Regions from separate parts of the Homo sapiens genome. Here all the other regions are linked to region 2. A link means that fine-mapping ties the variant in region 2 to the plasma level of a protein whose gene starts in the linked region. Region 2 holds a variant in brackets. A gene starts in each other region. All regions are shown on their reverse strands.

What was found. PIP is the posterior inclusion probability: the model's chance that the variant is causal. Protein levels are from antibody-based Olink assays in UK Biobank. Linkage for the fine-mapping came from a reference panel and not from the study's own genotypes, which makes the PIPs less certain.
Region 1: it holds the start of GCG, and the variant in region 2 is fine-mapped to the plasma level of the GCG protein (UK Biobank, PIP 0.95).
Region 3: TNFRSF12A starts here. The variant in region 2 is fine-mapped to the plasma level of the TNFRSF12A protein (UK Biobank, PIP 0.98).
Region 4: it holds the start of VPS37A, and the variant in region 2 is fine-mapped to the plasma level of the VPS37A protein (UK Biobank, PIP 0.98).

Annotation. Positions count from the first base shown.
Region 1 is chr2:162,149,570-162,155,383 of GRCh38, reverse strand. GCG (glucagon) reads left to right here and starts at 3,137. Exons shown (of 6, transcript NM_002054.5): 1 at 3,137-3,226. All of the region lies in intron 1 of LOC101929532 (a long non-coding RNA gene), which reads right to left. RefSeq lists a promoter at 1,528-3,249.
Region 2 is chr11:116,776,523-116,780,580 of GRCh38, reverse strand. It overlaps ZPR1 (ZPR1 zinc finger), which reads left to right. Exons shown (of 14, transcript NM_003904.5): 13 at 744-809; 14 at 1,522-4,058. The coding sequence ends at 1,656. Among named protein-coding and RNA genes, the nearest start is that of BUD13-DT, 5.1 kb to the right of the region's middle. The variant C/G (reference allele first, on the strand shown) is at 2,380.
Region 3 is chr16:3,017,555-3,023,368 of GRCh38, reverse strand. It overlaps TNFRSF12A (TNF receptor superfamily member 12A), which reads right to left and starts at 3,001. Exons shown (of 4, transcript NM_016639.3): 1 at 2,878-3,001; 2 at 2,050-2,154; 3 at 1,680-1,814; 4 at 986-1,598. The coding sequence starts at 2,971. The coding sequence ends at 1,543. HCFC1R1 (host cell factor C1 regulator 1) reads left to right here. Exons shown (of 4, transcript NM_017885.4): 3 at 8-136; 4 at 371-744. The coding sequence ends at 506. CLDN6 (claudin 6) reads left to right here and starts at 5,186. Exons shown (of 2, transcript NM_021195.5): 1 at 5,186-5,220. RefSeq lists enhancers at 1-81, 1,290-1,933, 1,473-2,672, 2,579-3,223, 3,992-4,587 and 2 more and silencers at 1,913-2,082, 2,933-3,152.
Region 4 is chr8:17,243,745-17,248,474 of GRCh38, reverse strand. VPS37A (VPS37A subunit of ESCRT-I) reads right to left here and starts at 1,517. Exons shown (of 12, transcript NM_152415.3): 1 at 1,106-1,517. The coding sequence starts at 1,230. CNOT7 (CCR4-NOT transcription complex subunit 7) reads left to right here and starts at 1,618. Exons shown (of 7, transcript NM_013354.7): 1 at 1,618-1,800; 2 at 3,228-3,439. The coding sequence starts at 3,323. RefSeq lists an enhancer at 1,021-1,869.

The DNA.
Region 1 (5,814 bases), not on the chromosome of region 2:
CACATAGCAGGTATATAAAAGAAGTATTCTTTGCATCCTGTCCCTGTCCACATGCACCCCACTTATCCACACTGCCTCCTACAGGTAAGCACTTTCATCAGCTTCTTGTCTATTTTAATTTTTTGACGCAATTATGAAAAATAAACACGTATTTCTGCCCCTCTCCCTTCTAAAACAAAAGGTAGCCTACTACATACCCATTCTGCACTTTCTTGTTTTCAACTAACAACATAACTTGGAGTCTTTCCCTACTGGTAAATAGACAGCGTCTTCATTTTTTTTTTTTTTCTAAACAGTGCTCTATTGCTGGCCCCTTGGATTAGTTCCCACCTGTTACTCTTCTACTCAACCTTGTACCTACATCATTACATATCTACATAGCAATATATGTGGGATAAATGTTCAGAATAGTGCTTTAGCCTTACTGGACCAAGAACTATAGGTATTAGTCACTTCGATAAGTATTACCAAACCACCTTTCAAAGGAGTTAATATTTTGTACTCCCATCAGCAACGCCTGAGAGTTCTCCCTACCCATAGACTTCCCATCGCAGCGCACTGTGAACCTGGATCTTTGCCATTCTCAACTATTCCTAAGTATTCCGAGCAGCTACAGAAAATAAACACACAATAACCCCACAATGCATGGTTTTGTGTAAATTTTTAAGAATTTTGAGGTGGTAAAAGCATTAAGGCAAGCATGAGGTCCTGCATGCAGCTTCATGCAGCTGCACAGGTTGTAAATCTGTGGAAATTGTCCTTAGGACTAAACATCATAAAGAAATCATATATGTCACTAGTCATAGACATACAGGGCTACCACTTTCCTTGCCTCACATCTAAATCACTGAATAACTGTATTGATGGGAATAGGCCAAGTAGAGGCTCATGCCAGAACAGTGATAGGAAGAAGATCTGCAAGTCCAAATTGCACTTGAGTTCTGTCTTAATTTCTGACAATTCGGTGTCCATGAAGAAGCCTGACTTGCCCCTCCTAGAGAGGAGAGCAGCACACAATGCAGTGGGGTTCTTATTGCTTATACATCCTGAGAATGCTTACCCTTATGGTACTGGGAGCCCCAAGAATCAGTGTCAGTGGGCTGGAGATAAAGTCACAGGAAATTTTCTGAAACAACTTGGGATAGTCACTTCTAGAATAATGGAAGCAAGTAGAGTGGAGGGAAAGAAAAATGTTTGGTAGTTAAATATTGGGAGAGGATAATTACTGAAAGGCCAGTGCTATGTTGAAGATTTTATATATATGATCTGCAGATCTTCCTTCTTAGGGCTGCTCCACAAACAAGTAGAGTCTGAAAAGGAAAGAGAGAGACAGAGACAGAGAGACAGAAAGAAACATCTGCTCAAATAGACAAATAGACAATGGGAAAAGTAGAACTGAATCTGCCAAAACGATTAAAAATATAGCGAATAGTTGTGTGAAGATTGTAGCCAGAGAGAAAGACAATGTAATCATACATTAAATCAATCCACTCTTTCAAGCTATTACCGTATTTATAAGTATTACTCTCTAGACCGACCTAAGGCTTGACACCTTTCTCTGCTCTTTCACCCCCTCTGCTGGTAGAGTGCCAAGAAGCAGGTCTCAGATCAAGACACCAGCAGTACCAATGAGGAGATAAAGTGAGGCAGATATTTTATGCAGCTGTGCTTCTCAAATTTTAATATGAACACAGATTTCCTTAGGATTTTGTTAAAATACAGATTCTGATAGGCACGAGATTCTGCATTTCTAGCAAGCTCCCAGATGATGCTGGTCCTTAGACCACACTTTGCAAAGCAAGGCTTTCTAGCACCCAATAATCACCAGCACAAAAACCCCTCAATGATGTCTTCCAGTCTGACTTGAAAGTGATCTCTGTGGCCTTCAAGTAGCTCTACATTCAAACGTTGGTCTCATGCACAAATTGAACAGTTAAGTTCATTTGGAATATTTCTCCAGTTGCCTCAATGATTTACCTCCATACAAGTCATCAGTGACATCATGCGGTTGGTTATATTAGAATATTGGAATCTAGTTAGGAAATGTTGTGATGAGTTTGCAATATGGAATAAAATTTTTATTTTAGAAAAGACATTTACCAACCCCTCTCATTTTACAAATAAGGAGGCAGAGACACAAAGAGAATGCGTGACTTGACCAAGGTCACACAGCTGGTCAATAACAGCAAAACTAAAATCAAATTATGCCAACACTACTTCTTATGCTGTCTTTCCAGATTATTTACCATTTTTCTATTTCTCTACAGTGACCAGAATCATTTCTGCTAAATGTCACAGATCATTAAAGCCTGTGTGTCCAGTCACAAAACTCAGGAAACGTGAAAATATGCATCTCATCTCAACAGTTTTCCTCATATCTCATTCTTTTGTAACTTAGTACCCCACTCTCTTATCAGTAAAATTAGATTTTAAATATATATTAGAAGGAAAAAAATACCAGATAATTTCCTGTTAGCATCAGCTATCTTGGATGTTTAATCTTCATTTTGCTCCATCCTTTCTGCCTGAATTCCATTTATTAAAACAGAACACATAGGGGTTTAATCAATATCCTTAAATTTTCCACAAACATAACATAAATAAACTCCACGTTGTGAGGAAGAGAGGATTTTTAATACATATGTGTTGAATGAATGATCATTATTTAGATAAATGAATGACTGAAGTGATTGTTATATTCAGGTAAATTCATCATGGCTAGGTAGCAAACCAAAGACTTGTAAGAACCTCAAATGAGGACATGCACAAAACAGGGATGGCCATGGGCTACGTAATTTCAAGGTCTTTTGTCTTCAACGTCAAAATTCACTTTAGAGAACTTAAGTGATTTTCATGCGTGATTGAAAGTAGAAGGTGGATTTCCAAGCTGCTCTCTCCATTCCCAACCAAAAAAAAAAAAAAAAGATACAAGAGTGCATAAAAAGTTTCCAGGTCTCTAAGGTCTCTCACCCAATATAAGCATAGAATGCAGATGAGCAAAGTGAGTGGGAGAGGGAAGTCATTTGTAACAAAAACTCATTATTTACAGATGAGAAATTTATATTGTCAGCGTAATATCTGTGAGGCTAAACAGAGCTGGAGAGTATATAAAAGCAGTGCGCCTTGGTGCAGAAGTACAGAGCTTAGGACACAGAGCACATCAAAAGTTCCCAAAGAGGGCTTGCTCTCTCTTCACCTGCTCTGTTCTACAGCACACTACCAGAAGGTAAGATGATTATAAAATTGTAAATCCTGTTTGGCGGACAGTGAAGTATTTTTAAGGGATCAAAATATTATAAATTAAAATGTTGTTCTTTCATCTTAGACTTTATTACTAATAGTACACAGAGAGGAACTGAGATGGAAAAGGTTATATCAAATGCATTTACGTGTACTTTAATATAGCGAAGCCGCAAAGCGAGTTGGAAAAATAATTATATGCAAAAATATAAAACAGAAAAAAAACAAAGATTCAAATCAATGCACTTGTTATAATACTTAACTGTTATGAGAGTTGTATTTTAAAATAATTGGTAACATTTTGAAGAATAAATATTTTTCTTGGACTTGATAGATCTGTATACTACTTTGAACAGAAGGCGTCTTTTAAAGTAAGCAGAAATGTGTCCATTAGGGAGCCTATAACAGAAATTGCTTTTTACCAATTAAAATCTCTGGTTTTCCAAAAGAGCAAATTAAATAACATCTTTCAAATATTCAAATTTCAGACATCTATCAAAAAATCAAAGTCCATTAAAGCAACTCTTTGTAAATAAAACATAGCGTACTTGGTGCAGAGAACAAGTGTCATCTATTTGGGGGGTTTTCTTTGGATGCATCTGAGTGAAGCCATACATTAATAACTATTTACTATGTATTGAGGATAAATAGTAATAAAATCTAAAATAGCTACCCTCTGCAATAAAATTTTAATTTGTCTTTTTAGATTAGGCTCCTAGAGACAAAAAACAAATTTACAAAGATCTTTGATGGAGTAAATGATTAAGTGGTGTATTTTTCCATACATACTGAAGACCTATTACATAAAATGAGCTAACCAGTTTGAAAAAGGATTTATATGGACTACAATGCCAACACATTTGGGGATAGAACATAATGTCTTCTTTTTTAGGTCTAAGGTTAATCTTTCTGTAAGACTTCCTACTTATTATTGTTACCATACTTTCCTTTAAATTTTAGTGGAAATTTGTAGTTCTTACAAAACTGCAGGCTCTCTTTAGACTACCTAAAGAGGGGGGAAATTAACTGGAAATTATTTTCTTATTGAATAAGATTTTAATACTAAAATAACATAAATCTCTACTTTCTCAGCAATTGTATTCAAACAATTAACTCTATTCTTTTTTTTTTCACAATTCGATAGACTTTCACAAACAAATAAGTGAGATTTTTAAAGCCAGTTCTTTCTTCAGAAGAAGTCATTTATTGTTGGTAATATTATTAGATACGGAACGCTCACTTCTTTATGTGGTTTATGGTTGTTCTTTCTTCCATCAGCTCCTGAAGTGGCAGGATACCTCCTGCTCTAAATCCTCCTCAATGGAACATAATAGGAGATATTGCAAAACGCTTAGGACTTTGGGTGGAATGAATTTTTTTTTCAGTCTTGTGAAAGACTAAAAGCTTTTACAAGAAACTTTTCAACAGTGGTATAATTTTTAAAAGAAGTGCTTACTTTAATATTTAAATATTCCTGCAAGCACGGATATAACAATTGAGAGTTATAATCAGTAGATACTACCTAAATATATGGCAAGGTTTCCAAAGTCTGCCAACCGGTTAAACTGAAGCATAGCAAAATGTCAAATTGGTAATTTGATGTTGATGAATGAAGAAAGGTGAATATATCATTCCTATTATGTTCCTTTGTCTAATCATCCATTCAATGTACAAAAAACTTAATATTTCAAAGAAAAAAGTTACTGCTGCAGGTATTACAGTGTCTATGTTTTAGTGCCAGAGATAGTAAATACAGCTAATATATTAAGGAAAAGATTGATAGTTTAAAAATGATAATATTTGTGAAATCCTTATTCCAAACCAAATGTCATTTGCTAAAAATATTCATTCAAATTATTTGTGGATAAGCATAGTCAAACTTGGATTGAAATGCCCGCTTCTCAAAGGAAACACCATTGGGTTTCAAAGTAGCCGAGATCCATGACAAAGACGGACTTGACGTTCCCATTCAGAAAATAGAAGCGCTTGCTCTGTGGGGACATTCTGTCCCACATTCATGTTGGTCCCAGTCCCCGTCGACACTGCATCATCACATCCTTAACATACTATGGCTTCGCAGGGCATCTGCTTGTGACACAGGGACAAGCAATCAGGTGTATCCTATAACCAAGTCTATGGTGTCACCAGCAGTGAATGACATGTCCTCATCTAAGTCCAATTAGAAAACAACCTGGGGACTTTTATGACTTTAGAAGCAAGCTCTAATTTTTTTTTACATAGTAATCTCTTAGTTTTTTAGTTGTGATTGTTCACGTTGCCAGAAGCATTAGTTCTTGTTGCAAATTGCTTGTCTTTAAAATGATTTTTTCCCTTTAATTTAGAACAGGTCAAAGCACCCTAAAATACCTCAAATCTGTTGGCCGCTTTATAATTACAAAGTCTAGACCAAGTTACACTATTTAAAATATAAATGAATAATACATCTGAACCGACAGCTGGTATGCCAAGTTGTAGCCTGAGGCTGCTTTAAGATGGTTGAAATGCAGTATAATGTAAATGCTTGGAAGTGAAGGACTATTAATTGAAAGCCAGACTGATAGTGAGGGGGGTGGC
Region 2 (4,058 bases):
GTGAAATTAGGTAGCTCTGAAAGTAGAGGGGAAAGGATCTAAAATAAGGACTGTTAGAAAAGCCAACATCAGCAAGCTGTGGACCAGGGGGTGCTGGCCCAGTTGAAGGTAGAGGGAAAGGACTCAAGAACAAGGAGGTTAAATGACTGTGGCTGCTCCATTTCCTGGCCTGAGGGTAAAGGCTTGGCTGGCAGTGTTCTGAGAGCTGTGGGAAGGGGGCTGGGGTGTGTATGTATTCTGTTTCCCATAAGCTTACATTCATTTAACCTACTTGTTCTTGATTCCTTTCCCTCTACCTTCAACTGGGCCAGCACCCCCTAGTCCACAGCTTGCTGATGTTGGCTTTTCTAACAGTCCTTATTTTAGAACCTTTCCCCTCTACTTTCAGAGCTACCTAATTTCACCAATTCTTAAAACTTTTGGGGATTCTGTAATATAAATTGGGTTGGTTCTTGTCTGGCAGGCATAGCCTCTTTTTTTAAAAATTTTTCTTTACTTTCATTTATTTCATTTCTTTTTTTATTTATATATATATTTATTATACTTAAGTTCTAGGGTACATGTGCACAACGTGCAGGTTTGTTACATATGTATACATGTGCCATGTTGGTGTGCTGTACCCATTAACTAGTCATTTACATTAGGTATATCTCCTAATGCTATCCCTCCCCCCTCCCCCGACATAGCCTCTTTTTACCAGGGGTTATGTAAAATTTACTTGCTGTGTTCTCTCTCTCCTTTAGATCATCGAAGGTAACATGAAGGCCCACTTTATTATGGATGATCCAGCAGGAAACAGTTACTTGCAGGTATAGTAGACCTTCCCTGATGTTTCATAGAGATACATTTTCTGATCTTCCTTGAATATGTATCATTTCCCTAGAAACTGAAAGACTTGATTCTAAATGGACTGCTTTTTACCAAGGAGGCAGAAGTTAGAAGATACATAAGGGAGAAAAGAGGGGGGTGTGGGAGGGGATTTTTTTTTTAAGTGTATGTAAAGAAGGAAAAAAAAAGGATACTCTGAGGCCCCTTTTTTTTCTGTAGTCAAGCTCTTGTCCCAGTTCTGGAGTTTTCATTTTGCAAATCTGATTATGGATTGAGGAGAAATGGTACCTTGTCCGGAGGCCAAGATAGGAAACTGATAGGCTTTAAGTTGACTGAGGAGAGAGTCTGGTGATTGATGTACCTTTACCATTTATTGGATACTTACCATGGGTCAGGCAAAACTCTTCTAAGTTCTTTCCAAGATTAAGACCATTTGTCATACTTTTCATAAGAAGGTGCAGATATAACAAAATAGGTGGATTGTTCCCTGATTCTGGGGCTGGGGTCTTCTACCCCTGGCCCATGTGGGCTCTGTTGCTACCCACTAGTTCAGTCTAGCCATGGGAAATTGGAGGCCAATAAAAAGAAAAAAACCCAAAACTCATTCTGTTCTTGGGAAGGTGGGAATTGGAAGCTGCCTGCAGAGAGGGGGAGTGGCACAGCGGCACTGATTGTCTCTCCTTGACCTTGCAGAATGTGTATGCGCCTGAAGATGATCCTGAGATGAAGGTGGAGCGTTACAAGCGCACCTTTGACCAAAATGAGGAGCTAGGGCTCAATGACATGAAGACAGAGGGCTATGAGGCAGGCCTGGCTCCGCAACGGTAGCAGTGGGTGGCTCAAGGGCCAGCCTCCAGCGCTGCTCTTTCTGTAGGTTATTTATTAGTATTGGATGAAGGCGAAGGCTGGGAGTGTCTTTCCCACCAGCCCTTGCCCATGGTGGGGAGGACATCTGGTCTGAGTCAGAGATCTGTGCACACTTTCTAAACAGCTTGTGATGCAAGTGTGAGCCTATTGTGTTACTTGACCTTATTTTGGAAGTTTTGAATTGGCCTAGGAGGAAACCCAGAAATGAACCAGGGGTATGTCATCACTTTTTTCATATCAAGTCCTCACCCTCCTTCCACATAATGCTCTATCCTCTAAGGTTGGAACTCTGAAGTTGGAGAAGGTGGAATAAAGTTACACCTGGAGTTTGTTGTTGGTTTTGAGTATATAAAATACTGACTTTGAACAGGAAAGGAGTCTCCTGAGGGGAGACCGAGTCCAGCACAAGTGAAGGAGTTACCATTGAAATGATGACTTTCAAACAGCACTGGCCTCTGTATTGACCCTATCCTTGTTTGATATCATGCTGTTAGAATTCAGCCTCCTAAAGAAAATTTTCCCGTGTATCTACTGTAATTTGGGGATTGCAGCTGGCATTTAATTCATTCCTTCAGCAGATGCTTGCTTATCTACTTTATGCCAAGCACACCACAGAACAGAGGACAAAATAAATCTCTTTCATGGAACTTGAAGTCTAGTGGGGAAAAATGACAATAAACAGAT[C/G]AGGAAAACAGTACATCAGATGGTGATTAGTGTCATGGAGGAATGTAAAGCAGGGAATGGGGCTGGGTTGTGCAAGGAAATGGGGAGTAGGGAAGATCTTCTGAACAAGAAGGTGATAATTTGACATTTGGGCAAAGCTGAGGAGGAGGTCAGGGAGTGAGCTGTGTGGGTATCTGGGGGAAGAGATTTCCTGGCAGAGGGAACTGCAAATGCTAGAGCTGTGAGGTTAGAGCCAGTGGGGGTACCTGATCAGTTAGCCCTACTCTCAGTTAGAAATGTTGAAACACATTCATCCAGAGAGAAAGGAGGCTCTCTGCAGTTCTTCTGAAAGTTAAGGACCAGTGAACACTCTGCTGCTTGGGCCCTGGACTTCCCAGCCAGTGTTCTTTGCACTGTAGTCTCCTGCCTCTCATAAACAAAAGGTGACTCCTGTGGTGCAGACTGCAGGGTATTTGTTCAATAAAGACCAGTTCATTGATTAAGATGTTATCACAAACCTTATTGCTTTGTGTTGCAAACTTTTTTTTTTTTTTTTTTTGGTAGAGACAGAGTCTCGCGCTGTTGCCCAGGCTGGAGTGCAGTGGTGTGATCTTGGCTTATTGCAACCTTTGCCTCCCGGGTTTAAGCAATTCTGCCTCAGCCTCCCGAGTAGCGGGGACTACAGGCGCACGCCGCCACACCCAGCTAATTTCTTTTGTATTTTAGTAGAGACGGGGTTTCACCGTGTTGCCCAGGCTGGTCTCGAACTCCTGAGCTCAGGCAATCCGCCAGCCTTGGCCTCCCAAAGTGCTAGGATTACAGGCGTGAGCTACCGCGTCCGGCTGTGTTGCAAACTTAACTCTGAAGAATGAGTTAGAGATGATTTAGCAATCAGACATCTACTCTCGTTGCTCTGTTAAACTACTCTCAAAGGTCACAAGTGATTTTCCACTTGGAAAGTGTTATCTATTTCTGTCACATTTGATAGTGGACCATCTCTTCTTAACCCTTCTTTTGGCTCTCGAGATACTGTACCCTTGGTTTTCCCTTCACTTTGAATATTTCTTATTTGGACACTTTGCCTCCTCCCCTCTTACTAAATTTGTTTCTGAGAGTTCTGCTTTCAGACATCTCTCCATATCAGATTCTTTGGCATCTTACTATCATGTGGGACTAACTTCCATACCTGTATCTCTAATTTCTGTAAGTGAGGGCGAGAGTAAGGTGTTTGGAGACTCAGGTTAGCAAATGACTCATTCAAACTATAAAGCTTCAGTACTTTGGGCAAACTTCTCACAGGCAACTATTCTACCCTAAGAGATTATCTCTAGGTATGTTTCCAGCTGACTTGGGAATCTAAGTTTACCAGACAACCCTCTGATCTATCATTTGGTCTCTTAAGTAGACTTCCCCATAGTGTAGGTGTGCTCTGTTAAGATAAACTGCAGTATCAGGTTCATTTTCCATTGTGAAGGAAAAAAAATGGCACTCTGGCTTATTACTGAATCTCTTGTGAGTTTGGTTGGTGTGAGGCAATCTCCCAGAATCCACCCAGTTCCTAGGAAATGATGACCTGAGTTTCTGAACTTGAAGACTGAGGACCAGGTGCCAGACTGGGATAACCCAGCTAAGGTACTTCCTGCCCTTTGATGACAAGGCATTCTTCAGTTTCATACCCTTCTCTTGAATTATCTTTCAGC
Region 3 (5,814 bases), not on the chromosome of region 2:
TCCCCAGGGAGCCTCTGCGCAAGCAGTTTCTGTCTGAGGAGAACATGGCCACCCACTTCTCTCAACTCAGCCTGCACAATGACCACCCCTACTGCAGCCCCCCCATGACCTTCTCCCCAGCCCTGCCCCCACTCAGGTAGGTTCCTCCACTGGCCAGGCCTTCTGCAGAATCACAGGCGGTCCTCACAGCTGACCTCAGGCCCTGCCTCATCGTGCCATTTTTAGCTCTAGCTGACCTCTGGGTTGTTTCCCATCTTGGCTCTTTGGAAAGTGCTGGGAACCCAGGAGCCCCTGGGGACCTGGACCTGGTGGGAGGTGCTCAGCTAGGCCAGCCTCAGCTCCATGCCCTGACAGTCATTTCCTCTTCTAGGAGCCCTTGCTCTGAGCTGCTTCTCTGGCGCTATCCTGGCAGCCTCATCCCTGAGGCCCTCCGTCTGCTGAGGCTGGGGGACACCCCCAGTCCCCCCTACCCTGCAACCCCAGCTGGGGACATAATGGAGCTCTGAGTGCTGGTGGACAGTGCCCCTCCCACCTTCCTTCTTCCCCACAACAGAAGAGACCAGCGACTCCCGCAAAGGGACAAGGTTCCTCCCTCTCCTGCAGAGTAGGCATCTGGGCACCAAGACCTTCCCTCAACAGAGGACACTGAGCCCAACGGAGTTCTGGGATGGGAGGGGTGGGAGCATGGGAAGGGAGGCATCCCACCCCCAAGAAGAACTGAATAAAGATTGCTGAGCAAAGGAAGGCTTCAGTCTGGAACCTGGGGCTTTTGGGGATGGTGGAGAGGGCAGAGGCGCGGGATGCTGGGGTTTCTCCTCAAGATCTTCCCTGGAAAACTGTTAGGGCCAGCCAGGTCCTTGCCGGCTGAGTTCCAGGCATTGAGAATGTGTGAGTCAGAGCCTCACCCCCGCCCCCGCGGCTGGCTGACTCACTCCCTCCCTCCAGCTCAGGGGAGTCAGTCGGGGATCACTGCCTCTCCAAACCATTTAAAGTTAAAGATTCTTTTATTAATAAATTCTCCCTCCCCTCCAAACTCTCCCCAAAATAAATATCTCCTCCCCGCTTTGGGGAGTTGGGGGGGTCTGTATCTTAGGGCCAGCCCTCCTAGTGGGCCAGCCCCCTAGTGTTAAAAATAGGTCCCTAACCCCCCAGGGTGACCCCCGTGGTGGAATTTCAGGACATCTGAGTGAGTGGGGCCTAGTGTCAAGTCTGCCCCCCAAGTCAGCCTGGCCCCCAGGGCCTCTAGGAAGGAGGGCACCCCCCTCCCCTGTGCAAATGCTGCAGTTCCTTAGTCAGTGTCAGCTGTTTTGTGTGAGCCAGCGTGAGGCTCCCTTTCTGTTCTGGAGCCAGAGGCAGGGCAACCAGACACCTTGGAAGGTTCCCCTGAACCCTGGGCCCAGGCCTCAGAGGTGATTCACCGCCCCCCACCCCCCTTGTGGTTGGAGGAGCTTGGCTCCCGCCGCGTCTGGGAGGCAGAGACTGGCTCTAGAATGGATGAATGAATGATGAGTGGGCGAGCCCCGGCTGGCAGGGGGCACATTGTCACTGGATCAGCGCCACAGCTGGGCAGCCCTCTCCGCCGGTCTCCTCTATGGGGGCTGCAAGATAAGAGGTGGGGTCGTCAGCAGCAGAGAAAAGGTCGAGTGCTGACAGGGCTGGGCAGGCCAGGGCACACTTACTGGTGAACTTCTCTCTCCTGCGGCATCGTCTCCAGACCAAAAAGCCAGAAAGCAGCCCCAGCACGAAGGTCAGGCTCAGAGCGCCCCCAAGGATGGGCCAAAGCAGCCGGAAGGGGGCAGGAGGTGCTGCAGCGCCTGGGGGCGGGACTCGGAGTCAGACCTCGCCCCTCTCCAGGCCAGCCCCGCCCCCTAAGACTGAGCCTTCTGCCTTCTCCCAAACGTGGCCTCCTCCCTGACCGGAGCCCCCTCCCAGCTCCCACCTCCTCCCGAATGATTTCCCAGATGCAAAGCTCTCGGCCCCGCTCTGCGCACCAGCCACCCTCCCTCCCAGTCTGGGGTCCGCTGGCCACTGGCCCTGCCCCCCACTCACAGCCCAGGCAGAAGTCGCTGTGCGGTCGCGCCCTGCAAGACGCGCAGTCCATGCACTTGTCCAGGTCCGCGCTCCAGGAGCTGCCGCGGGAGCAGGGGGCGGTGCCTGGGGAGGGGGCCTCGGGTCAGAGGCTGGGGGCGGGACTCGGCTATTCTGGGGTCTGAGGTCAGGGTCGGCCGGCTCGAATAACGTGAGTCACCGGCGCCCTCCCCGCGCATTCCTCACAGGTGACCGCACGGCCCGACCGGGACACGGCAGCTCCGGGAGGGAGGGCGTAGCGCGGGACGCTGGGGGTGGGGGGGGTCAGGTCCCCACAACCCCCCTGCCGCCGGCGGGTGACTCACTCCTGGGCACCGGGCCCGACCCCAGTCCCTCCCCCCGCATAGCTGGGCACTGAAGTCACCGGATGGAAGGGGGCACCCCACATGGTATAGAGGGCACAGACCCTAGTGCCTCTCGACGGCCTCCCCAACTCGTCGATCACTGGGGCTAGTTAGACCCTGTACGGACCAGGCTGGGGGCGTGCCCCTTCCTAGACTAAACATCCCGCCCTCACTCACTTTCTCTCTCCATTCGAAGTACTTCGGACTTGTGGAACTGAAGACCCCCCCCAACCCCAATTGGACGGTGGGAGAAACTGAGGCCCGGATTGTGAATGAAGCTTGGAGAGTGATGGAACTTCCCACAGCCGGGAGCGAGCTGTTTGAAGGCCACCTGACCCCAGATCCCCACATCCGCCTGTTCCCCCAGTTCGGCGCTGTTCTCCAGACACCCAGTCCGGCTCCCGAGCCCCGGCCCGGGGTTCCCCGACCCCGGAGTCCCGCGTACCTGGCGCTTGCTCCCCGGCCACGGAGCGCAGCAACGCCAGCCAGAGCCCCAGCACGAGGAGCCGCAGCAACCGGCGCAGCGAGCCCCGAGCCATAGTGCACGTCCTGCGCCCGCCGCTGTCTGCGCCCGCCGCCGGCCGGCAGGGACCCACGGCCGCCGCCCCGCCCCCGCCCCCGCCTTCCGGGGCGGAGCTCTCGCCTCCGCCCGCCTTGAGGTCCGCTTCGGGACGCCCCGCCCCGCGGCGCCCGCTCAGTTCAGTCATTCATTCAACAAAGTCCTGGCGCGGGAGCTGCCAGGACCCCGCAGGGACGCAGACCCCCTTCCTTGCCCAGCCGGTGATCTAGTCCAGCGTGCGTGGTGTGGGGAAATCAAAAATTAGACACGAGTGCTCGCTTCGGCAGCACATATAGAAATCAGACACGAACGGCCGGACGCGGTGGCTCACGCCTTTAATCCCATCAGTTTGGGAGTCTGAGGCAGGCGGATTACGAGGTCAGGAGTTCGAGAGCAGCCTGACCAACGTGGTGAAACGCCGTCTCTACTCGAAATACAAAAATTAGCCGGGCGTGGTGGCGCGCGCCTGCAATCCGAGCTACTCAGGAGGCTGAGGCAGGAGAATCTCTTGAACCCGGGAGGCAGAAGTTGCAGTGAGCCGAGATCGCGCCACTACACTCCAGCCTGGGCGACAGAGTGAGAGTCCGTCTCAAATAAATAAATAAATAAATAAATAAATAAATAAACAAACAAACAAACAATAAAAAGAAATCAGACACACGACCAATCCATGCAGAGATCACTGCAGCTTCCTTCCCCCCACCTCCCCTTGAGATTGCGTCTCACTCTTGCTCAGCCTGGAGTGCAGTGGTACGATCACGGCTCTCTGGGCTCAGGTGAGCCTCCCACCTCAGCCTCCCAAGTAGCTGGGACCACAGGCCCTGCCCCACCACGTCCGGCTAATTTTTGTATTTTTTGTAGAGACCAGGGTCTTACTATGTTGCCCAGGTTAGCCTGGCCACTACAGCTTTGTTAAGGGCCCGGGGGGTATAACAATTAAACCTGAGGTCAGGAGCTCGAGACCAGCCTGGCCAACTTGGTGAACCCCCGTCTTTACTAAAAATAAAAAAAAGAAAGAAGTTAGCCGGGCGTGGTAGTGGGCGCCTGTAATCTCAGCTACTCGGGAGACTGAGGCAGGAGAATTTCTGGAACCTGGGAGACGGAGGTTGCAGTCAGTCGAGATAGCGCCATTGCACTCCAGACTGGGCGACAGAGAGGGCCTCCATCTCAAAAAACAAAACAGGCCGGGCGCGGTGGCTCACGCCTGTAATCCCAGCACATTGGGAGGCCGAGGCGGGCAGATCACGAGGTCAGGAAATCGAGGCCATCCTGGCTAACACGGTGAAACCCCGTCTCTACTAAAAATACAAAAAAATTAGTCGGGGGTGGTGGCGGGCACCTGTAGTAGTCCCAGCTACTCTGGAGGCTGAGGCAGGTGAATGGCGTGAACCCGGAAGGCAGAGCTTGCAGTGAGCCAAGATCGCGCCACCACACTCCAGCCTTGGCGAGAGAGCGAGACTCCATCTCAAAAACAAACAACAACAACAACAAAAAACCAGCAACATAAAAATAATATTATCTGGCCGGGCGCGGTGGCTTAAGCCGGTAATCCCAGCGCAGTGCGAGGCCAAGGCGGGCGGATCGCTTGAGTCCGGGAGTTCGAGACGCCTGGGCAATATAACAAGACCCTGTCTATACAAAACAAAACATAAATTAGCTGGGCACGGTGGCGTGTGCTGCCTGTAGTCCCAGCTACTCAGGAGGCTGAGGCGGGAGGATCGCTTGAGCCCAGAAGGTCGAGACTGCAGTGAGCCGTGATCGCACCACTGCACTCCAGCCTGGGTGACACAGTGAAAATATTTCTCTAAAATAATACCAATAGTATGCCCTTTAATTTGTACCTTAGGACGTAGTTACATAATAAAATGCAGACTTGTTATCTCCATTTTGCAGAGTAGGAAACGAAGGCTCGGGAAGGTTAGGTGAGTTCCCCATGTCACCGCGCTGCTTAAGTGGTGAAGCGGAGTCTCAAGCTCTGTTCTACCCTAAGCCTGGCGCCCTCACCCTGGGTGAGTCTGGACGTCTGCCAGCCCGAGGCGGGCCCAGCGACCCCAGCCTCCAGCGCCCCCCTCTGACAAGCCTGGGATTCGCACGCCCGCTGCCGTCAGGGACAGGGTCTCTGCCCCTCCTCCGGGGCGGTGGTCCAGTGACGTCACCGCTTCTTTAAGACCCCCGCCTCCGCCCCTGTCCCGACACTCGGCCTAGGAATTTCCCTTATCTCCTTCGCAGGTGAGTCCGGGGCTAGTGTGCGTGTTGGAGAGACGCCTCTTGGGGCCGGGTGCAGGGTGGTGGCGGCGTGGGTAGGGGTGCGTGCGAACTCGGGCTGCGGCCACCTGGATGGGCGAGTCCCTGAGGGGGTCGGCCGGTCCGCGCCCAAGCCTCCGAGGTGATAGGGTCCTTCGGGGCTCCCAAGGGTTAAACGCCCCTCCCCCCTCCCCAGGGACAAAGACTCCGAAACCCCTGGCGCCCCTCCCCCACCTGCCTTGCCTCTCGGGGCGGGGCGCCCCTCCCCCCTCCCCCTCACCTGGGGGAGCGGACCTTGCGGCCACTGCAGCTATAGAACCCCTCCAGGGCGCGCGGCTCCCAGGCTGGGGTGGTCGGGTGGGCCGGGGCGCCCTCGGACAGAGTCTTTTTCATGCAGTGCATGAAAAAGAAAGGGGCAGGGGCACACTCAGAGGGGAGAGGCCTGGGCGCCTATACCAGCGCGGCCCCGACCCTAACTCGGCCAGAGGCCTAAGGGCCGGACCTGAGCGCTGGGGCACCGTGCCCCAGCCAGTCTCCCCAAGGTGGTCTGCTCCGCCCAGGCCTGGGGCCCCCGGCTAA
Region 4 (4,730 bases), not on the chromosome of region 2:
GTGAAACCCCGTCTCTACTAAAAATACAAAATATTAGCCGCGCATGGTGGCGCGCACCTGTAATCCCAGCTACTCGGAGGGGTGTGGGGAGCTGAGGGAGGATGATTGCTTGAATCCGGGAGACGGAGGTTGCAGTGAACCGAGATCGCGCCACTGCGCTCCAGCCTGGGCAACAGGAGAGCCGTACCCCCGGCAAAAAAAAAAAAAAAAAAAGGGGTTAGGGACTTAACAATGTTGTCATCTTTATTTAAAATAGTGTGAAACTGTTAAGTAAATATACTTGCAAAATGCATAAAATATAAAGAAGCAGTTCTAATTTTTGAAAACCATTAGAGACCATAGACATTTGCAATGTAAAAGGCTGCAGCAAACCAATTTACAGTAAAAGTTGAAATAATATGAATTGTAAAAATATTTCTAAACTGACCATGATAAAATGAAAAACTCACAGGAAGACAACAGAACAATCAAGATGAACATAAAGTAATTCTTGAGCGTGGGGACAAGACTATGAAAGAAGTGAGAAATGTACATGCACTGGTCGCTGTGAGATGGGGAGAGACTGCTCCAACAGGGTAAATCTTAGAGACTCAAGAAGACTGACTACGTGATAAGTGACTCTCAGACGAGAAGCATTCACTGATGAAAACTCTGGCTTCCCTTTCCTTTGATGTTGCAACAGTTCTATTTTCCATTCTTTGTGAAACCTGGAGATTACTCTTCACAATTGTATTTTAACAATTCTGCTGACGCGGCAATCAGGTGGGCAAAGGGAAAGATCAGTGGCGAAGCCTGGGCAGCAAGGGATACTGGAAATAGACTATGAGAGAGATTGAGAGATTACAGTCAGCAGCTATGTGTCAGGAGGGATGAGGAAATCCGAGTTAGAAGCGCTGAGCAGTGGTGCGGCAGGAGGCAGGGAGGGTCCGGAGGAAAACAGTAAAAGGGGGCAGGAGTGGCAGAGCAAGCGTGTGACCCACAACCAAGGGAGGTAAACCACATGAGGAGCTGGTGGGGAGCAGACTGAGGCGCTGTGAGGGTGGTTAGGACAAGCCCGCCCTCCCACCCTACTTTTTCCTCCGGTGGAGAGGCAGCGACCAGTCACCTGGAGTGTGAGTTCCGGAGGGACTCGATCAGGCGCTGCTTCTGCTGCTGGAGGCTGGTGAGGCCACCGGGGGACCCAGCCGCGGAGGAGGAGGCGCTCTTGGTCAGGGGAAAAAGCCAGCTCATCCTCCTCGGGTCCACGGGCCGGAGGCCCTGGAAGGCTCTGGCCTGCTTCTCCCAGTGGCTCGGCCCGGCGGTTCTCCAGCGACAGAGGAGCGGGGTGGGACGTCCGTGGCCCAAGCGCTGGGGACCGCGTCTTCTCTAAGCCTGTCCTGCCTGCGCTCCCCGAGTTCTGGGGGACATGCTACGAACGGCGGGCGGCTGGAGAGGGAAACTTGCGGCCCGGAACAGGAGGTCCCACCTTCACGGCCCAGACGCCCAAACCGGCCAGCCAGGGAGCCTGGCCGCCCAGCGCTCCACCACCCGCGCCGCCGTCACTTGCGTGCCCCGCCCCCGGGGGCGCTCTCCGCCCCCTCTGCGTGTCGCGTCATCATCTAGCGCCCCCGTCAGGACGTGCGAAAAGCGACGGCGCAGCACGGTGCGGCGCAGCTCCTGCTCGCCTTTCCCTTCGCTGGGCGAGAGGTGTCTATGGGGCACCCGCTGCCGCCGCCGCTACCGCCACCGCCACCGCCACCGCCGCCGAGTGCTGTCTCTATGGCGAGGAGGAGGAGGAGGAGCGCGAGCTCAGCGACACAAGTAGATCTTGCATCCGCTGCAGCCTTACGGGGGGAGGGGCGGGTTAGGGAAGTAGAAAGGGGGCGGGGACGATGAACCTGAGAGGGTGCGCGATGGCGCCAGCTGGAGTGCGGCTGGCGGAGGAAGGAGCCTGGCGGCGGGTTGGGGGCTGGGTAACTGGGGCTGGGGGTTTGTCAAGGGGTTGGCGCGTAGTGATGACGCAAAGGCTTTGTACCTGGGGCTTCGCAGTGGGACGGAAATTGGGAGTGGAGGGCGGTGGCCTAGATCCTCACCTCTTCGTATTGTTTCACGCGGCAGTGCTTGGGAGTCAGTGTAGCTCCAGTCAGTGTTATCAGCACCTTCGCACTGGCGCTTTGCCAGGGAAGAGAGTTATCTATGGCTTGAATACCTCGGTGCCGTCCTCTCGTTTCTCTGGGAAACTGCAGTACGGAGATGCTTTCTCCAGTAATGAGAAGGCCTTTGGTGTCTCTTCGGGGCTTCTGGGACTGCAGTAGAGAGAGAGGTGGAGGAAAACAATGTTAGACTACAGGGTCTTTCCAAGTCTTTGTGTTTTTGTGCTTATGTGTGTGTGTGTGCCTATCGGGGTGGGAGAGTTATAAAGGAGGGGTGTCCTGGATCTCCTTTAGTTTCTCTACTTGGAGAATTGGAAGTTACATTTGTGACTCTTCAGAGTTTAGAAGACAGTCATAAGACCCTCTTTTTACTCTTGTTTTTTTTTTTTCCAATTTGTATGAAAAATGCAGAAGGATTTGAAATTTCCCTGCCCAAGAATCAACAGGAACTCTGTTTATAGACCAGAAATGTGACATCTATCTTTGGTAACCATGCAATATGCTCTAAGTTTTAGACGTTCTATTGTGTTCTTTTTCCGTTCTGCAACTGCGAACATTCAGATAATTTTCATGGCCGTTACTTTTTTCTCAGAGCATTTACAAACATTTTTGACCCCTCTAGTCTAGTTAGAATAAACGCCGGTAAAGTAGATCTTGTTATCAAGTCGGATTTTGGTTGTTTTATTAATGAGGAATAAAAATAAACACCATCTTTGCCATGGTAACATCTGATCTTGTCACATGTAAATAAGTAATTTTTCATTTTTTGTCTGGAAATGGATGGCTTTATAAAGTTTTATGCAGAGTAGTTGAACTCAGATAAATAATTAGTGGAAAGTTATAAAATATGATTAGTATGTATGTGTAAAAAAGCTATTTTAAAATAACTGAAATTAGGACCAGGAAATCTGTACTGTAGTCCTTTTTTTCCTATAGACTAGCTGTGTGACCTTAAGTTACTTTCTAAACTTTGATTTTTTTTTTTTATGAGTCAAGAACTTTGAATAAATAACTTCTTAGGTTCCTGCTGGATCAATTATTCTGTGATTCAGATTTGATATATCTGGTCTTCATATTGTTTTTTTATTTTGACAGGTACATAAATAAAGGATAAAATATTTTATGAAACAAATCTTCAATCAAGTATAACATTTTGATGCTTGGCATCTAGACTCCCTTGTGCCCTCACTATGCCAGCGGCAACTGTAGATCATAGCCAAAGAATTTGTGAAGTTTGGGCTTGCAACTTGGATGAAGAGATGAAGAAAATTCGTCAAGTTATCCGAAAATATAATTACGTTGCTATGGTATGCCCACAAGCAGATCTTTAAAACGCTTCATATAAAGGAGGAAAAGGAAATTTTAAAGTCTTGAATTCAACCCTTTTGGTTGATATTTTTAGGGATTAATTTCACCATGAAAAGTAAAATTTGTCACTGCCCTCCAGCCAAAATCCATCAGGAATACACCTGTGATTTGACAGGTTGGGTTTATCCCTCATTGCAGTGAGGGAAAACGCACTGGAATTCATGGGAACCATGGGCCGTTTGAATAAGAGTTAGGAAGGATTTGGGCTCGTGTCAGGTGGTCTTAGGGGAAGGTAAGGGAAGCAGAGCTTTACTGTGGATTGGATGTGTTCGGGAAGCTGGGGTAATTCTGTGATTGGGTATCTTACTAAGTCTTAAATGAGAGACTAGAATGAGGTTAAAGCTGCAGAGAAGGAACAGTCATTCATTTAGCCAGGATGGAGATACTTGGTCATTTTGTGGTTTGACATTTTTATTTTTTTGTCCTTGTTCAGACATGATTACAGAGTGGCCTTATTTGAGGTTGAACTTTTGTGAAATTGTGTTCAACAGGAGAACATTAGGGCGTGGCTATGAGTGCCAGGTCTGCTCCTAGCAACACCAAAGCCTAGCTGGTAGTACCACATGAGCTCCCAGAAGCTAGGGTGCTCTTTCTCAAACAAAAAAATCAGATGTGCCAGTGAAACGTTGTTGGTCTGCAATTTGTTTTCATAATTAACACTGGAGTTCTGTGAATATACTGTGTTACTAAGCAACTCTGCTTTTGCACGTGCTGTTTGGTCTGCCTAGATTGTCTATCCAGTTAATGATTTTTCTTCTTTACCATTATACTGTCTATATCTGTTAGCTACCCTACTGTTTTCTACATCCACTGGATTATTATTAGCTCCATAAACCAAGTGTTTTAATCCTTTCTCTCCCAACACCTAGCATAACACATATAGTATTCAATAAAGTGGCTGTTGAATTGCACTGAATTTAGAGAAATATTGATTTCTTTACTATTTCATAGTGACTTGATAGGTAGTTTTTATTCTTAGCTAGCCCTAGTTTGAATTCTAATACTAAACCGATGTATCTTTGTCTCAGTATTTTTAATAAAAATAAACAAATGCATTACTTTGGGGAGGAGCAAGTTGATTGGTTAAAATATGACTGTTTCTTTGTAGATGACATACTATTTGATAAAGGTGTACTTACCCATGATTAGAACTAAAATTGTTTTCTTAACCAATGGAAATTCATAGTGATCATTGATTTCTCAGATGATAAAGAGTGGCAACATAGAGAA